2 separate regions of the Homo sapiens genome follow, and region 2 is linked to region 1. Evidence: fine-mapped expression QTL. A gene starts in region 1. The other region holds a variant in brackets. All regions are shown on one strand. Distances are from middle to middle.

Region 1 (8,515 bases):
AGCATTTCAGATTTCAGATTTTTGCTTTAGGGATGCTCAATCTCTATGGAAGGTGAAGTGGTTTAGAGCACAGGCTCTGAAGTCAGACAGACTTCAGATTTAGATTTCATCCTGGCTCACTTAATCGCCACATGCTCGCTGGCTGTTTCTTACCCTCTGAACGATTTATACAATTCTATCTAATAGCATTGTTGTATAACTTAAAATTTACATCTGAGAGGTGAAATTAACGTATGTAAGCCGGGCGCGGTGGCTCACACCTGTAATTCCAGCGCTTTGAGAGGCTGAGGCGGGCAGATCACCTGAGGTCAGGAGTTCGAGATCAGACTGACCAATATGGTGAAACCCTGTCTCTACTAAAAATACAAAATTAGCCAGGCATGGTGGCGCATGCCTGTAATCCCAGCTACTCGGGGGACTGAGGCAGGAGAACTGCTTGAACCCGGGAGGCGGAGGTTGCGGTGAGCCGAGAACACGCCATTGCACTCAAGCCCGGGCAACAAGAGCGAAACTCCATCTCAAAAAAAAAAAAAAAAAAAGAAAGAAAGAAATTAATGTATGTAAAGCACTTAGCACGAAGCCTGGGACCTGGTGAACATTCACCAAGTTATTACTGTAGTTCCCTCTCTACCTTCCTTCATGGTGGATGGCTCTTACCCACACAGCCACACTTCCTCAATTCTGATTCTATCAGCCCATCTGCAGGCCTTAAATAGTCAGAACACCTGTAGAGCAGATGTTAATAAGGTCCCAGACAGTTTCTCATCTTTTTTTCTGTTTCACATACTGTGCCCTTACCAAAATAAGCAGGACACCAGGGATTCCCCATATCAACTTAGCTATCTATCCATCTGCAACTTCTGTCTCAACATCACGAGTGCACGTGTGTGTATACATGAGACTGAGTGTATATGTGTGTACAAATACAGTTTCATACTCCTCTGAACAAAAAAATAACAAAGGAGGGTGAGGGACCTCAGAGGAGTCATTCATAACCTCCCAGAGTGATATGCACCAGTGGAGAACACTACATTGGGGAAATACAGAAACCCAATATAGCGAATGAGATAGGCAAATCATAGAAAATAAGAGGCAGGGGCGGGTGTGGTGGCTCACACCTGTAATCCCAGCACTTTGGGAGGCCGAGGTGGGCGGATCATTTGAGGTCAGGAGTTTGAGACCAGCCTGGCCAACATGGTGAAACCTCATCTCTACTAAAAATACAAAAATTAGCCGGGTATGGTGGCATACACCTGTAATCCCAGCTATATGGGGGGCTGAGGCACAAGAATTGCTGGAAGCCGGGAGGTGGAGGCTGCAGTGAGCCAAGATCGCACCACCGCACTTCAGCCTAGGCGACAGAGTAAGACTCTGTCTCAAAAAAAAAAAAAAAAAAGGAAAAAGAAAAAGAAAAGAAAATAAGAGGCAAAAGACCAATAGAGAAGTGAAATTTCCAGCCTCAAAAAACCTTCCCCGAATCTTTTTGGGCTACCATCTTCATTGCCCTAAGCCTCACCTGAATCAAAGCAATGAGAGGAGAGACTACAATGGTGATGCCTTTGGCCAACAGAGCAGGGAGCTGATAGCATAGGGATTTTCCTGCCCCTGTGGGCATGCACACAAAGACGTCCTTGTTACCTGAAAAAATACAAGACAACAATATCTCAGTGCTTCCTGCCTTTTCATTGAAGTTGTTGAAAATTAAATGAGAATGTAGGAAAAGCACCTAGCAGAGTGTCTGGCACATGGGAGGGTCTCGATGTAATCCTAATTCCCCTCCTGTCCTTTCTATGAAAAAGGCAAGGATCCTGGGAAACTTGGATACATGCCCAAACCATTTCTAGTAATGGTTAAAAACAAGATTTAAAAAGTCTGGGTCAAGCGCAGTGGCTCACGCCTGTAATCCCAGCACTTTGGGAGGCTAAGGCAGGCAGATCACGAGGGCAAGAGTTTGAGACCAGCCTGGCCAACATGGTGAAACTCTGTCTCTACTAAGAATACAAAAATTACCCAGGCATGGTGGCACGTGCCTGTAATCCCAGCTACTCAGGAGGCTGAAGCAGGAGAATTGCTTGAACCCAGGAGGCGGAGGTTGCAGTGAGCCGAGATCGCGCCACTGCACTCCAGTGTGGGCGACAGAGCAAGACTCTGTTTCAAAAAAAAAAAAAAAAAAAAAGAAGTCTGAGTCTGCTGTGATATGGATGATTGAACTAAACAGCCATGAAAGCAGAGTACTGCTAGATGAGTGGGTACATCTGTGTAGACATGAGAGGACATTACTTAGAGGGCTTTTGTTTAGACATGTATCATTAATATTACATTGCTGCTCGCCTCTTGGCAACTTCCATTTGTCACCGTATCTCAGGTTTATAACATTATTACTCTTTCCTTCTCTATCTGGGACCAAGGCCACTCAACCTGCAACAAGGGAATTACCTAGGAGGCCAGTGACCGAGTTAAGTTATTCCTACCACCCTCACTGTTGCTGTTCGTTTGTGTGTACAAACGAACAATAATGAGAATCTGAAGTGTTTTCAAAGACCATGTGTAAATCTAGCTATGAAATATAGACCAGCTGGGTGGTTCTGCCACTAAAACTACAAGCTTTGGGCCGGGCGTGGTGGCTCATGCTTGTAATCCCAGCACCTTGGGAGGCCGAGGTGGGAGGATTGCCTGAGCCCAGGATTTGGAGACCAGCCTGAGCAACATGCCAAGACCCCATCTCTAATTAAAACAAATAAACGAAACTACAAGCTTTGACAACTCTAAAGATTTCCAAATCCAGTTATGGACCAAAGGTGAGGCAGTACGAAGGGTGAGGAGGAGGGTGTTCTGCCGCAGCGTTATGGTATAGCCAGCATAAATTTAAAGGAAGGTAGCTTGGTAATGTTACCTTTTACTACAGCCATGGTCGCACTCTCCTGTAAAGGCGTCTTAAAAGAGTCAAACCCAAAGACCTTCTTCAGCGTACTCCGGACTCGCCGCTCAGGGTCAAAAGGAAAGGTGGTATGGTGGCTGCTCATCTTAGCCAAGAACAGTGGCCAAAGGTTAAGGCAAAGGTAGTAAAAGGTTGCCACGAGAACCCTCTGTTTTGCATTAAAAATACAGATTATTTTTCTGTAACAATTTGCTATATTACACTTAAATAATGTATTATTTTTAAGTAATAAAGCTGAAGGTGAACTGCCTCAAGCAATACATTCCTCAGTAATTAACATCTCCACTTTTACGCTCAATGAAAATGAAAACATTGAACTATTCCAGGCCACGGTATAGCACAGAGCTAGAAATCAGATCAAGAGAAGAAACATAAATGTCTTCAGAACAGCTTGGAGAACGGGGAACCGTTTTCCTAAGATCCACCACCTGCTCCTACTTCTATAAGCGCAACCACGACGACCGTTCTTCCACCCCGGGACCCCGAACCCCTTCTCCCGTCTTCCTGAGCCCAAGATCCGCAATTTTCTCTCTTGGCTGGCCGACACCTCCCTCTCTTCACCCTAAGATATCAGAACCGGCCGTGGTCCGCCCAAGAATTAAAGGCTGCTGGCTGGTTCCGGAACTGTTCGAAGACCCCTATACACAACCCCAACTCAGAGAAGCCAAAGCGCTGGGAATTCAGCTTTAGGCAGAACCCACGCAATCTTATATCCGTCGCGCAGTGATGACGTAGCGCGAGCGCTGGCATGAGGGCGGAGCCAGGCGCAGGAAACTGCCGTTTTGATTGGTTTCCAGTGTGGCGCGGGGGTCTCCTGGGATCCGAAAGAACCTGCCTTTCCGCCCGGAAGTCGGCGTCTTGAGTCATAGGAGTGAGCCACGCCCGGGCTGTGGGAATAAGATGGCGGGGAAGAAGAATGTTCTGTCGTCTCTCGCAGTTTACGCGGAAGATTCAGAGCCCGAGTCTGATGGCGAGGCTGGAATCGAGGCGGTGGGCAGCGCGGCTGGTAAGGCCCAAGTGCGAAGCTGGAAGGGGGAATCGGGTGTCTGCCCGGAATGCTGTACCCTCGCTGGGCGGGAGGGAACAAGATGGTCATTGTGCTCCAAGCACCGGACCCCGAAGAATGGTCCAGGGTCCGGGGTGAGATAGAGCATTAGAGACTGTGGACTAAGAATGAAGAATCTCCTTCCCGTTATTTCGATTAATTTGCCTAAACTTACTGAAAGACTCCGTGCCGGCTATAGTGATAGACAGAGGGATGGACGAAGAGGGAGCGGCTGCTCAGCCACTGCCTGTTTCCCCTGGGCTCGTTGTTTGATGAGGGAGAGCGATAAGTAAAACATACGTGGAAGATGGTAAAGATTGTGTTCGTTAACTTTATAACTTTTAGTTAGGAATGTGCCCTAAACACATCTTGGAGCTTTTAAAAACAAACGTATCTGATGCCCAAAGTGAGAGAACCTAATTCGGTAGAACTGGGGTAGGATGTGGGCATTTGTGAACTTTTTAAGGATCCCAGGTGATTTTTCTTATTTTGTGAGTTTTTAAAGCCTAACGGTGATGTTCTCCTCCTCAGGTTGAGAAGCACAATGTTAGATAATGGAAACAGATTCCTTTGGGAGAATAAAGAACAAGTTACCTAACAACATATCAGGACCTTAGCTTCCTCATCTGGAAAGTGAAGGGGATTGGATTAGGTTAGGTACTTCCATGTTTTGTGATTTTGTGTGGTCTCTTCCAGTCAGAAAGTTCTCTGATGGTTTCCTATAAACACTTTAGTGTTTATCTAGTGTTTATAGCATTAGAAACAGAATTTAGTACTCGGTTTTGTTCCCTGACCTTTTAATGATTTTATTCAGTAAATGCTGGCCTTCTCAGAGAGCCGAATCTGGGCCTATTGTAACTTAACATGAGATTTAGGTTCCCTTTGTATCTTCAGAGATAGTCTTGGCCACTCAAATCTCTGGACATTTTTTCTTACATTGTAACTCTTGTTTTTTTTTTCTTGCTTTTTGTTTGTTTGTTTGTTTTTTAACCTTTCAGAGGAGAAAGGCGGATTGGTATCTGATGCCTATGGGGAGGATGACTTTTCTCGTCTAGGGGGTGATGAAGATGGTTATGAAGAAGAAGAAGATGAGAACAGTAGACAGTCGGTAGGTAAATCTCCCAGATCCAGAGCTACTGAAAGCACAATTTCATTTGTCAGATTTTGGAACTGTGCCAACAGTGTTCCATTTCATGGTTAGCTCCATCCCTTGCTCTCCCGTTTTGTTTTAGTATTAGTGGAAGAAACTGGATTGGATATCAGATCTGTTTGAAAATGTATTTTCACATGGATCATTTTTTATTAATCTTTGAATTGAAATTTGGGGGAAAAGATAGTGGATTATTTTATTTAACCCAGATATCAATGGGTGTTTTATGTTGATTTTTCCCTGTTTAAATGATTTACTCCATTTATAGCAGGCATTCATCCTAACTGGTGTATCATTTATATCTACAGTCAACTCTGCATTATTTTTAATCTTGGTTGGGGCTCATTTAAGTCTTCTCAGTTTATTAACAAGATAAGAAAGGAAAATTCGTTTTCACCTGCTTTTTCTTTTCTTTTTTTTTTTTGAGATAGGGTCTCACTCTGCTGTCCAGATTGGAGTGCAGTGGTGTGATCATAGATAGTTCACTACAGTCTTGAACTCCTGGGCGCAAGTGATCCTCCCACCTCAGCCTACCCAGTAGCTGGGACTACAGGTGGGCGCCACCATGCCTAGCTAACCTATTATTATTTTTTTTTGTCGGAATCTTGCTCTGTCGCCCATGCTGGAGTGCAGTGGTGCGATCTCTGCTCACTGCAACCTCCACCTCCCAGGTTCAAGCAATTCTCCTGCCCTCAGCCTCCTGAGTAGCTGGGATTACAGACACCTGCCATCACGCCTGGCTAATTTTTGTATTTTTCACAGAGACGGTTTCACCATGTTGGCCATTCTGGTCTCTAACTCCTGACCTCAGGTGATCCACCCGCCTCATCCTTCCAAAGTGCTGGGATTACAGGCGTGAGCCACTGCTCCTGGCCGATTTTTAAAATTTAAAAAAAAATTTTTTGTAGAGACGTTGTTTCACTATGTTTCCCAGTCTGGTTTCAAACTTCTGGCCTCAAGCAATTCCCCTGCCTCACCCTCCCAAAGTGCTGGGATTACAGGTATGAGCCACCATCCCTGGCCTTCTTAACTTCTTTCTTGACATTTTATTTGGCACTTTTTATAATGGTGCCCTTAGTTCTTGATCACAAATCTTGCCTGAAGTTCAGTAGGTGCTGGAGAAAGGAGAACCTGTGCTATTATTAACAAGAAAGTCTTTAGACACATAATCACCTGAGCAACATGAGCCAGAATTTAAGTTTGCAGAAAACGCAAGGAAATTGAAGTTGGTGCTTAGCATAAGACAGGCAGAGTTGAGTCTAGATGTCAAATCTGACTGCTTAGCAAGTTTTAATTAAATCACTTAAAATATATTATTTGTTTGAAATTTTTGTTACATGTTGGTATGTAAATGTTAGCATTAAAATTCTTTCCAGCCAAGCACGGTGGCTCATGCCTGTAATCCCAGCACTTTGGGAGGCTGAGGTGGGCGGATCACAAGGTCAGGAGATCAAGACCATCTTGGCCAACATGGTGAAACCCCATCTCTACTAAAAATACAATAATTAGCAGGGCATGGTGGTACGCACCTGTAGTCCCACCTACTCGGGAGGCTGAGGCAGGAGAATCGCTTGAACCCGGGAGGCGGAGGTTGCAGTGAGCCGAGATCACGCCACTGCACTCCAGCCTGGGCAACAGAGCCAGACTCCATCTTAAAAAAAAAAAAAATTATTTCCACAACAAACAGAAATGCGTTTTGTACATGATGCATTTTGGGAGATACTTTCATGCCTTTAGCCCCATCCATTAATATTGATAATTCAGAGTTGACTGAAATTATTCAGAAAAGTTTTGCAAGTTGTTTTCTGACTTTTCTGAAGTACACACATTCTGGCTTAATATTCATAACTCTTTTCTTTAGTACGTTTGCATAATGTGTTTTTGAAGTGTTATTTCATATTTGCTTTGCTTAGAATTTTCATCATGTTTAAGCTTCATTTCATATTTTAGTAAAATCCTCTCATCAGATCTTGTTGTAGAGATTCTGAAATGTGATTGTATTTGTCTGAGCTCCATCTCTGTTTATTTGGCATGACTGATTTCATTTTAAGGAGATTATGGAGATTGCATTTAAAGCCTTGGACTCACTGGTACCTTACAGGACAGTTAAGTCTCCAAATCATGAGTCTAGTTTGTTCAAGTCTCTCGAGTGGTATTTATATTAATATATGGAGTGCTGTGTAATGTTTGGGCTGAAATGTAGCTTTGTTGAAAATAGTAGTTTCAAATGAAACCATTTTTTCCTGGGTATTTAGTTAAAGGCTTCTGTGCATTGGGAGTGTTCTGGGTAGTGGAGGTGACATGGATTTAGCCAGCTAATAAGGTAGCTGGTCCAGCATCTGCTCCTGATCTTTGACCTTCATAGCATCAGCGTTAGCGTTCAGTGGAATGGCGGGCTCGCTTTGGAGAATGCCTTACCGTGTGTGATCCTTTGTGTCAGGCTGACCTCATCTGGATAAGGAACAGGACTGGGTAGAATGGATCACTGGCAGTTCTGTGAGCACTTAGGTGGAGGCAGAGCCCACTCAACTGGGACTCCTGAAAGGTTGGGCATTGCCCTTTAGTCCTGCCTTTCCCAGGTCACTTGCTCAGGTAGTTTGATGCCTGCCTTCCTGTGTTGATGTTTGTGCAAATGCCGGTTGAGGTGCTGCGATACAGCTGTGTGTAAGCCTTGGCACTTGGTGTTGGACACTGTTAGAGTAGGTCCGAGTCTGATGTACATGTGTATATGAAAAGGAAAGAAGGCTCATAATCCTGATTTGAAATAACTGATACTTCAGTGGAAACACGATGCCTGTTTTATTGTGTGGCCTGATCTTACTCTTTCCTAAAACATATTGCAAGCTTTCTCCATTTTTATGTATGTGACTTTGAACTCGGGCATCTTCATTGATGTGGACTGTCTCACCACTAAAGTAACTTGACTTTGAGCTGCTGATGCTTTTTTGTTTTTTGTTTTTTTCCCCTCCAGAATATCTCTTTTTCCCCTTATTTTTCTCTGGTTCTGAGTTATATGGTAGGGGAGGGATTCTTGGTGGGATGACCCCAGCTGGGTAAATGGGCTGTTTGCTCCGGCCCCTAGTTATGCATGTGAGACTCCTCAGGCCCGCTCCTTTAAGCTTAATCCTCTAAATTCTTTGTCTTGTAGGAAGATGACGATTCAGAGACTGAAAAACCTGAGGCTGATGACCCAAAGGTATTTGGTGTTGGCTGTGGTGGGTGGCTGGATGCAAACAAGGTGTTTGAACACTGTGGCTCAGTTCGTATGTTTGGTCAAGATCTGTCCCACTGACAAACTGTGCAACTGTGTGGACATTTTCTGGGATAAAATAAGCTTTATAAAGAAAGAACCTGGAGACAACTCAGGAATGAACAAATCCTG
Region 2 (8,000 bases), 52 kb before region 1:
GCTGGGGCGCTTGGAGATCCCGGCTGAGCTGGCCGTCATGCTGAAGACGGCGGAAAGTGAGTCTTGTTGGTGTCCTCTTGTTAGGACTCCTTCTCCAGTCCCTTTACTGTGGGGTGTGTCTGTCCCTTGTGGTTCCTCCCTCTGATGCTCCAGACTCCCCTGAGCTCATCACTTGGGTCCCTGTGGACAGGGGCTGATGGCTCGTGGTGAGGGATGGAGGTGGTCCCAGGGCCAGGTACCACACCTGGATGCTCCTGGGCTGCCTCCCGGTGCTTGTTCCCAGGCCATCGGGACGCCCTGGCTGGGAGCATCACCGAGTGCCTGCCGCCTGAGGTTCCTGCCCGGCCCAGCCTGACTCTCCCAGCAGACATTGACCTGTTCCCTTTCTCCAGCTTCGTCGCCATCGGCTTTCAGGTGGGCGCCCAGGCCTAAGCTCTTCCCGCTGGCCTCACCGCTCTGAGTTAGCACCTGCCTGACAGATGCTGCGTTTTTTTCCCCGCTGTCAGCTCTTGCCCTCCTTCCTCCCCAGCCTTTGGGGCTGTGAGTAGCGCTGAATTGCTCTGAAAATAACCGTTGAATGTAATTGTCTCACCATAGAGCGTTACTGGAGATAACAGTTGGTGTTATTGAATGGGAGACGTTATTTAGATCCACGATGCCACACCTTTGTTGTACCTGCGGTAGTGCCCTGCTTTTGAAGTCATGACCTTAAAGAATGTTTATTGACAAGGGAAATTGTCCAGACTTCAGCAGTAAATACAAATGCAGGTTCAAAACTGCACATACAGGTTGGACATGGTGGCTCATGCTTGTAATCCCAGCACTTTTGGGAGGCCGAGGTGGGTGGATCACCTGAGGTCAGGAGTTTGAGACCGGCCTGGCCAACATGGTGAAACCCCGTCTCTACTAAAAATACAAAAATTAGCCAGACATGCGCCTGTAGTCCCAGCTACTCAGGAGGCTGAGACAGGAGAATCACTTGAACCTGGGAGGTGGAGGCTGCAGTGAGCTGAGATTGTGCCACTGCACTCCAGCCTGGGCGACAGACAAGACTCTGCCTCAAAAAAAAAAAAAAGGCATTAAGATGCATTTCTGTCCAGCCCCTCTGCCTCTCCCGAGGTGCCTGCTCCGGTGGGGCTCCCCTGGGCTGTCTGATAGCTGGTGAGCATGGACTGAGCCCTCTCCTTCCTTGCAGGAACCGTCCCTGCCCAGGCCAGGGCAGCCACTGGCGAAGCCCCTAACCCAGCTGGATGGAGACAACCCTCAGCGTGCCCTGGACATCAACAAAGTGGTGAGTGACACATTGGAGAAGGGACAGGATAGGCGCCTGGGAGCCCCGCACGTCCTGTCCTTACCCGGCTGTGTCGGCAGATGCTGCGGCTCCTGGGGGACGGATCCCTGGAGTCCTGGCAGAGGCAGATCATGGGCGCATACCTGGTGCGGCAGGGGCAGTGCCGGCCAGGGCTGCGGAATGAGCTCTTTAGCCAGCTGGTGGCCCAGCTATGGCAGAACCCAGATGAACAGCAGAGCCAGCGTGGCTGGGCCCTCATGGCTGTTTTGCTCAGCGCCTTTCCCCCACTGCCTGTCCTACAGAAGCCACTGCTCAAGTAAGGGGCCTGGGAGGTGGGGACCTGGCAGGTGGGGTCGCTGGATCACCCTGCCTCCACTGCAGCCTGTGCCCGCCCTGCAGGTTCGTGTCTGACCAGGCCCCCAGGGGCATGGCAGCGCTGTGCCAGCACAAGCTGCTGGGGGCCTTGGAGCAGTCGCAGCTGGCCTCGGGGGCCACTCGGGCCCACCCCCCGACCCAGCTGGAGTGGCTGGCCGGATGGCGGCGGGGCCGCATGGCGCTGGATGTGTTCACCTTCAGCGGTGAGGGCTGCCTCTGGCTGAGGCCTCCCAGGCCTGAAGTGGGGCCAGCCCTACCCCTTTGCCCTCCCTGGAACCCCTTCCTGCCCCAGTCTTCCTGCTGCCCTGTCCTCAGTGACCCTGATCCCCCTCCCCTCTGTCCTGCTTTTGAAACTCTCATGGGGACAGCAGCCCCTTCCTGTCAGGGTGGACTCTGCTGTCCCTCACTCTTGCCCCCGCCCCCCATGCCCCTGCAGAGGAGTGCTACTCGGCCGAGGTGGAGTCTTGGACCACCGGGGAGCAGCTGGCTGGGTGGATCCTGCAGAGCAGGTATGGGGACCGGGGATGGGGGACAGTGTGGCCAAAGTGACCCTTGTCCTATACCCTCCTCCTTCTCCAAGCCCAGTCTCAGGGGCCGGGAGGAGAGGTGCCCCGGGGTGGGCAGGGGCCAGACTGCAGATGGCGATGGGGAGCCGGGGGCAGATTAGGAATGAGGGGCTTGGGAGCTCCCACGGCAGATTCTAACTCAGCAGGTCAGAAAAGAAATGCCCATGCTGGAGCCCTTGTGGAAGTGGAGGGCCGTGAGGTGAGGAGGGGAGCAGCCCCCACTGCTGAGCAAACCTGGGTCCCGGACCAGGCGGATCCAGGGCCACCCTCCCTTCCTCAGCCCCCTGCCCCCTTGGCCCACCCTGTGGTCCTTGCCCCCTTCTGGATGGCCGCCTGCCTCACTGACTGGTCCCCTCCCACCCAGAGGCCTGGAGGCGCCTCCCCGGGGCTGGTCTGTGTCACTGCACTCCAGGGACGCATGGCAGGACTTGGCTGGCTGCGACTTTGTGCTGGACCTGATCAGCCAGACTGAGGACCTGGGGGACCCAGCTCGCCCCCGCAGCTACCCCATCACTCCTCTTGGCTCGTAGGTGCCACCCAGCACCCCTCTCCCTGGCCTGCTCCTGCCGGGGAACCCCACAGCCACCCTGCCACACTCAGGGGTTTATAGGAGCTGCCACAGGCCCAGCCCTCCCACCCAGCCTCCTCCCAACCATGGGGTGACCCCCGCAGCAGCTTCTACCTCTTGCCCCAGCCTGGGTGACCCTCAGCCTTGGCCACCCCCTTAGCTGGATCCCGTTTCCTGCAGAGCCGAGGCCATTCCCCTTGCCCCTGGCATTCAGGCCCCCTCACTGCCCCCAGGACCCCCTCCAGGTCCAGCCCCAACGCTGCCCAGCAGGGACCACACAGGTAAGGCTGGAGTGGGCACATGGAGGTTGGCAGAGCATGGGAAGCCCCACGCCCCGGGCCATGGCTCCAACCCTCTCCCTGCCCCACAGGGGAGGTCCAGAGGTCAGGGAGCCTGGACGGCTTCCTGGACCAGATCTTCCAGCCAGTGATATCCTCCGGCCTCAGCGTGAGTCGGGCACAGCCCCCAAATGCCCCTGCCCCAACCCCCCGGGGCCTCTGCTGCCCCTTCCATTTTTCTCAGGGCTCTCACTCTGACCTGTGACCATTGTCCCTTTAGGATCTGGAACAAAGCTGGGCTCTGAGCAGCCGCATGAAGGGAGGGGGCGCCATTGGGCCCACACAGCAGGGCTACCCCATGGGTGAGTGAGGGGCTGATTCCTCACCCAGGGCCTCCGGGCCCGGCAGCATGGCAGGCATGGCCTGGGACCCCTCTGGCAGTGGCGATCGATGCCCTGGCCAGCACCCCGGTGCCCGATGCTCTTCTCTGTGCCTGGGGCTGGAGGGAGGTGGCATGTGGGCCCAGGCAGGGACTGACAGGGAGGGCGTGTTCCCTCAGTGTACCCAGGAATGATTCAGATGCCTGCATACCAGCCAGGCATGGTCCCTGCACCCATGCCCATGATGCCAGCAATGGGCACAGTCCCTGCCATGCCAGGTAAGTCTGGGCTGGGGGCACCAGAGTCCCTTCTCAGGAGAGCAGCCACCAGCTCTGGGACTGGAGGAGGGAGGGTCCTGCTAGGAGTCCCGAGTGCACAGTGGGCAGCGAGCTTCAAGGCTGGCCATGGTGCCCACCACTCTGGCCGCCTGCCGCCCTCACAGCCATGGTGGTGCCGCCGCAGCCACCGCTTCCCAGCCTGGATGCAGGGCAGCTGGCCGTCCAGCAGCAGAACTTTATCCAGCAGCAGGCGCTAATCCTGGTGAGCGCTGGCAGGGCCCTGGGGCCACCTGGTGGAGGAGAGGTCTGTGGCTCGGGGATGAGGGTCTGAACTGGCTGCTCCTCCTGCTTCAGGCCCAGCAGATGACAGCCCAGGCCATGTCCCTGTCCCTGGAGCAGCAGA[T/C]GCAGCAGCGGCAGCAGCAGGCTCGGGCCTCCGAGGCTGCGTCCCAGGCCTCACCCTCAGCCGTCACCTCCAAGCCCAGGAAGCCCCCCACACCCCCGGAGAAGCCACAGCGTGACCTGGGATCAGAGGGTGGCTGCCTGAGGGTGAGGAGGTGACCATATTCTCAGGAAGGGATGTGAGGGTGGGGACTGCAGGGGCAGGGGACATGGGCAGGGTGAGTAGGCAGACACAGGGAAGAGGCTGCTGGCCCAGGACTGGGGACCCGAGGGGTGTGGCGAGTGTGGCACCCAGGCTGGCTGAGCTGCCACTCATTTCTGCTTCTGCCAGGAGACCTCCGAGGAGGCTGAAGACAGGCCCTATCAGCCCAAGAGCTTCCAGCAGAAACGGAACTATTTCCAGAGGATGGGTGAGGGCACTTGGGGTGGCAGGACCGTGCAGAAACATGGCCAGTGCCCCTGGCCCGGGCCAGGGAGGGTGGGGTGTGCTCTGCTCCCCGGAGTTGGTGCGGCCCATCCAGGAGCCCAGCTGGGCCAGTATGGGTAACTTTGAAGGCCATCTGGACACTTGCAGGGCAGCCACAGATCACAGTGAGGACGATGAAGCCCCCGGCCAAGGTCCACATCCCCCAGGGGGAAGCGCAGGAGGAGGAGGAGGAGGAGGAGGAGGAGGAGGAGCAGGAGGAGCAAGAAGTGGAAACAAGAGCAGGTTGTGGGGAGCTGGGCAGGGCCTGGGGCTCCGGTGGCTCTGCACGCGGTTAACAGTCTTTCCTGTTTCCTGGTCAGTGCCGTCCCCTCCTCCTCCCCCCATCGTGAAGAAGCCATTGAAGCAAGGTGGGGCCAAAGCTCCAAAAGAGGCTGAGGCTGAGCCAGCCAAGGAGACAGCGGCCAAGGGCCATGGCCAAGGGCCAGCCCAAGGCAGGGGGACTGTGGTGCGCAGCTCAGACTCCAAGCCCAAGCGGCCACAACCCAGCAGGGAAATTGGCAACATCATCCGCATGTACCAGAGCCGCCCGGGCCCCGTGCCTGTGCCCGTGCAGCCATCCAGGTGGGCCCCCACGGGGAGGTGGCCAGGGCTGTCCCGCTCCTCGGGGAATCACCCTATGAACTTAGTGACCTCTTGCTTCTCCCACGAGGCCTCCCAAAGCTTTCCTGAGGAAAATCGACCCCAAGGACGAGGCTCTGGCCAAGCTGGGTATCAACGGTGCCCACTCGTCCCCGCCGGTGAGCACCCCAGCCTGTCTCCCCCAGAGTGTGTGCTGCTGCACTGGGGAGCTCAAGGCTCTCTGGGGCGAACTTGGCCTTGTGCTGTGACTCAGCCCGTGTACTTTCTCCGTATCCCCCCAGATGCTGTCCCCCAGCCCAGGAAAGGGCCCCCCGCCAGCTGTGGCTCCTCGACCCAAGGCCCCGCTACAGCTTGGGCCCTCTAGCTCCATCAAGGAAAAGCAGGGGCCCCTTCTGGACCTGTTTGGCCAGAAGCTGCCTATTGCCCACACACCCCCACCTCCACCAGCGCCACCACTGCCTCTGCCCGAGGACCCAGGGACCCTTTCAGCAGAGCGTCGTTGTAAGGAACCACATTTCTCCTGCGCCGTGGGCTTCACTGGGGCAGAGGCAGGGTTCGCACAGACTCTCGGTGCCCAGGGCTGAAGGCATTTCTGCGTGGCTGAGGCCAGCTGTTCGGGCTTCTGGACTTTGGAGCCATACGTAGCTGGGGAGTCCCAGCTTCCGCGTTCCCACCCAGGGCAGGGCCTGGGCATCTTTGGGGCTGTCATCGAGAGGCTGTCACACACAGGGTGTTGTCCCTGACACATACCCGACAGCTCTGTGAGGAAGTTAGTGGCCCTGGCTGACATGGTCATAGAAGACCCACGAGCCTCACGGACGCCAGGGAAAGTTTAGGGCCCAAAATGGAGGCAGGAGATGGTGCCATGGAAGGAGTAAGGCAGCTGGAGGTTGGGAGAGCCGGGCCCTTGGAAGGCTCGTGGGGATGAAGGTCTTCCCTCCCGTGCCCCCATCACTCTGGCTCTGCAGCCCCTCACTGAGGCTCCTCACCCCCTCCTCTCTGCCAGGCTTGACACAGCCCGTGGAGGACCAGGGGGTCTCCACCCAGCTACTCGCGCCCTCTGGCAGCGTGTGCTTCTCCTACACCGGCACGCCCTGGAAGTTGTTCCTACGCAAGGAGGTGGGCATGAGGGTGGGGCCTTGGCCTGGCCTCTTTGGGCTGGCAGGGAGGCGGCAGGCTTTGTGCATCCCAGCCTGGGACCCCAGCATCCCCTCCCCACAGCCCACCATCTCAAGGCTGATTTTCCAGGCCTGGGAGGGCAGAGGCTTGCTGGGAAGAGGCACCAGACCCACCGATCTTTGCCCTTCTGTGCCCTCCTCCAGGTGTTCTACCCACGGGAGAACTTCAGCCATCCCTACTACCTGAGGCTCCTCTGTGAGCAGGTGAGAGCTGGCCCACCTGCCAGCCTGAGACATCTGCAGAGACAGCATCCTTCGTGCCCTTTGTCTAATGGCTGGGCCAGGTTAACACCACGTAGGGCATGTTGGCAGCCAGCACTGGGGGGCACTTCTGTGTGCCCAGACCTGCCTTCATTGAACCTTCACAACATTCCTGAGAAGTAGGGACCATGGCCAGGTGCGGTGGCTCATGCCTGTAATCCCAGCACTTTGGGAGGCCAAGGCAGGTGGATCATGAGGTCAGGAGTTCGAGACCAGTCTGGCCAACATGGTGAAACTCCATGTCTATTAAAAATACAAAAATCAGGCGTGGTGGCACGCACCTGTAACCCCAGCTACTTGGGAGGCTGAGGCAGGAGAATTGCTTGAACCCGGGAGGCAGAGGTTGTAGTGAGCCGAGATTGTGCCACTGCACTCCCGCCTGGGTGACAGAGCGAGACTGTGTCTCAACAACAACAAGAAGTAGGGACCATTATTCATCTAGTTTTATAGATAAAGTTTAAAAGCAAAGTGCGTACAGTGCACAACACAGGCTCTAGCACACAGTAGGTACTTAATAAATGGTTGTCACTTTGCCACCTCTGAACGCTCCCAGGAGTGAGCCTCTGTTCCCCCTAATTCTGCAGTAGCACCTGCCCCCTGCCCCGAACAATCTTGTATCTGGGCTGATCCAAGGGCAGTTACCACGGGGTCTCTGGGCAGTGAGTGAAAAGGGAGGGCTGGCAGTTGCAGGGGAGGGGACAGGTGAGACGTGTGAATGGAGGTGGCCCAAGCCCTCCATCCCTCCCTGCCCCACCTAGGCCCTCTGCTGAGCACACAGGCCATGGGGGCCAGGGCGCCCTCCATCGGCCTCCTCAGGTTTTCCTTCATGCATGTGGATGGCTGCTCTGGGGGTGGGCTCTGTCTCAGGACCTGGTGGTGACCACCTCGCTCTGCCCCCAGATCCTACGGGACACCTTCTCCGAGTCCTGTATCCGGATTTCCCAGAATGAGCGGCGGAAAATGAAAGACCTGCTGGGTATGGGTCCAGGGACCATGGAGTTGGGAGCTTGAGTGCTGGGGGCCGCGCCTGCCCTGAAGGAGGGAGCAGCATGGGAGCAAACTCTAGAGCCCCCTCTGTGTGAGCAGAGGGCAGCCTGGGTCCTTCCTGCCCACAGGAGGCTTGGAGGTGGACCTGGATTCTCTCACCACCACCGAAGACAGCGTCAAGAAGCGCATCGTGGTGGCCGCTCGGGACAACTGGGCCAATTACTTCTCCCGCTTCTTTCCTGTCTCGGTCAGTGGCGCTGGGGTAGGGAGTAGGGATGCCAGGCCCCCAGCCTGGATCCTGGGGTGCATGGGCACAGACCACAAGCAGGAGAGCCGGGGAGCAGACGCCAGGGGAAGGACAAAGCCCAGCCAC

Direction of the effects. Alleles are on the strand shown, and positions count from the first base shown. SD is a standard deviation of normalised expression in the study named.
In carriers of allele C in region 2, the expression in pancreas of the gene that starts at base 3,620 in region 1 tends to be lower than with T alone (small effect, 0.21 SD a copy in GTEx).

Evidence for each region.
Region 2: its variant is fine-mapped to the expression of RECQL5 in pancreas (GTEx, PIP 0.92).

Annotation. Positions count from the first base shown.
Region 1 is chr17:75,663,535-75,672,049 of GRCh38, forward strand. RECQL5 (RecQ like helicase 5) reads right to left here and starts at 3,620. Exons shown (of 20, transcript NM_004259.7): 1 at 3,510-3,620; 2 at 2,894-3,037; 3 at 1,517-1,638. The coding sequence starts at 3,023. SAP30BP (SAP30 binding protein) reads left to right here and starts at 3,804. Exons shown (of 11, transcript NM_013260.8): 1 at 3,804-3,944; 2 at 4,982-5,091; 3 at 8,282-8,329. The coding sequence starts at 3,839. RefSeq lists enhancers at 2,745-3,944, 3,526-3,625, 3,796-4,045.
Region 2 is chr17:75,611,603-75,619,602 of GRCh38, forward strand. MYO15B (myosin XVB) reads left to right here. Exons shown (of 64, transcript NM_001395058.1): 24 at 1-56; 25 at 284-414; 26 at 1,196-1,291; 27 at 1,372-1,607; 28 at 1,691-1,869; 29 at 2,103-2,175; 30 at 2,597-2,758; 31 at 2,981-3,081; 32 at 3,171-3,247; 33 at 3,359-3,440; 34 at 3,638-3,736; 35 at 3,901-3,998; 36 at 4,091-4,282; 37 at 4,467-4,545; 8 more. Among named protein-coding and RNA genes, the nearest start is that of SMIM5, 18 kb to the right of the region's middle. The variant T/C (reference allele first, on the strand shown) is at 4,140.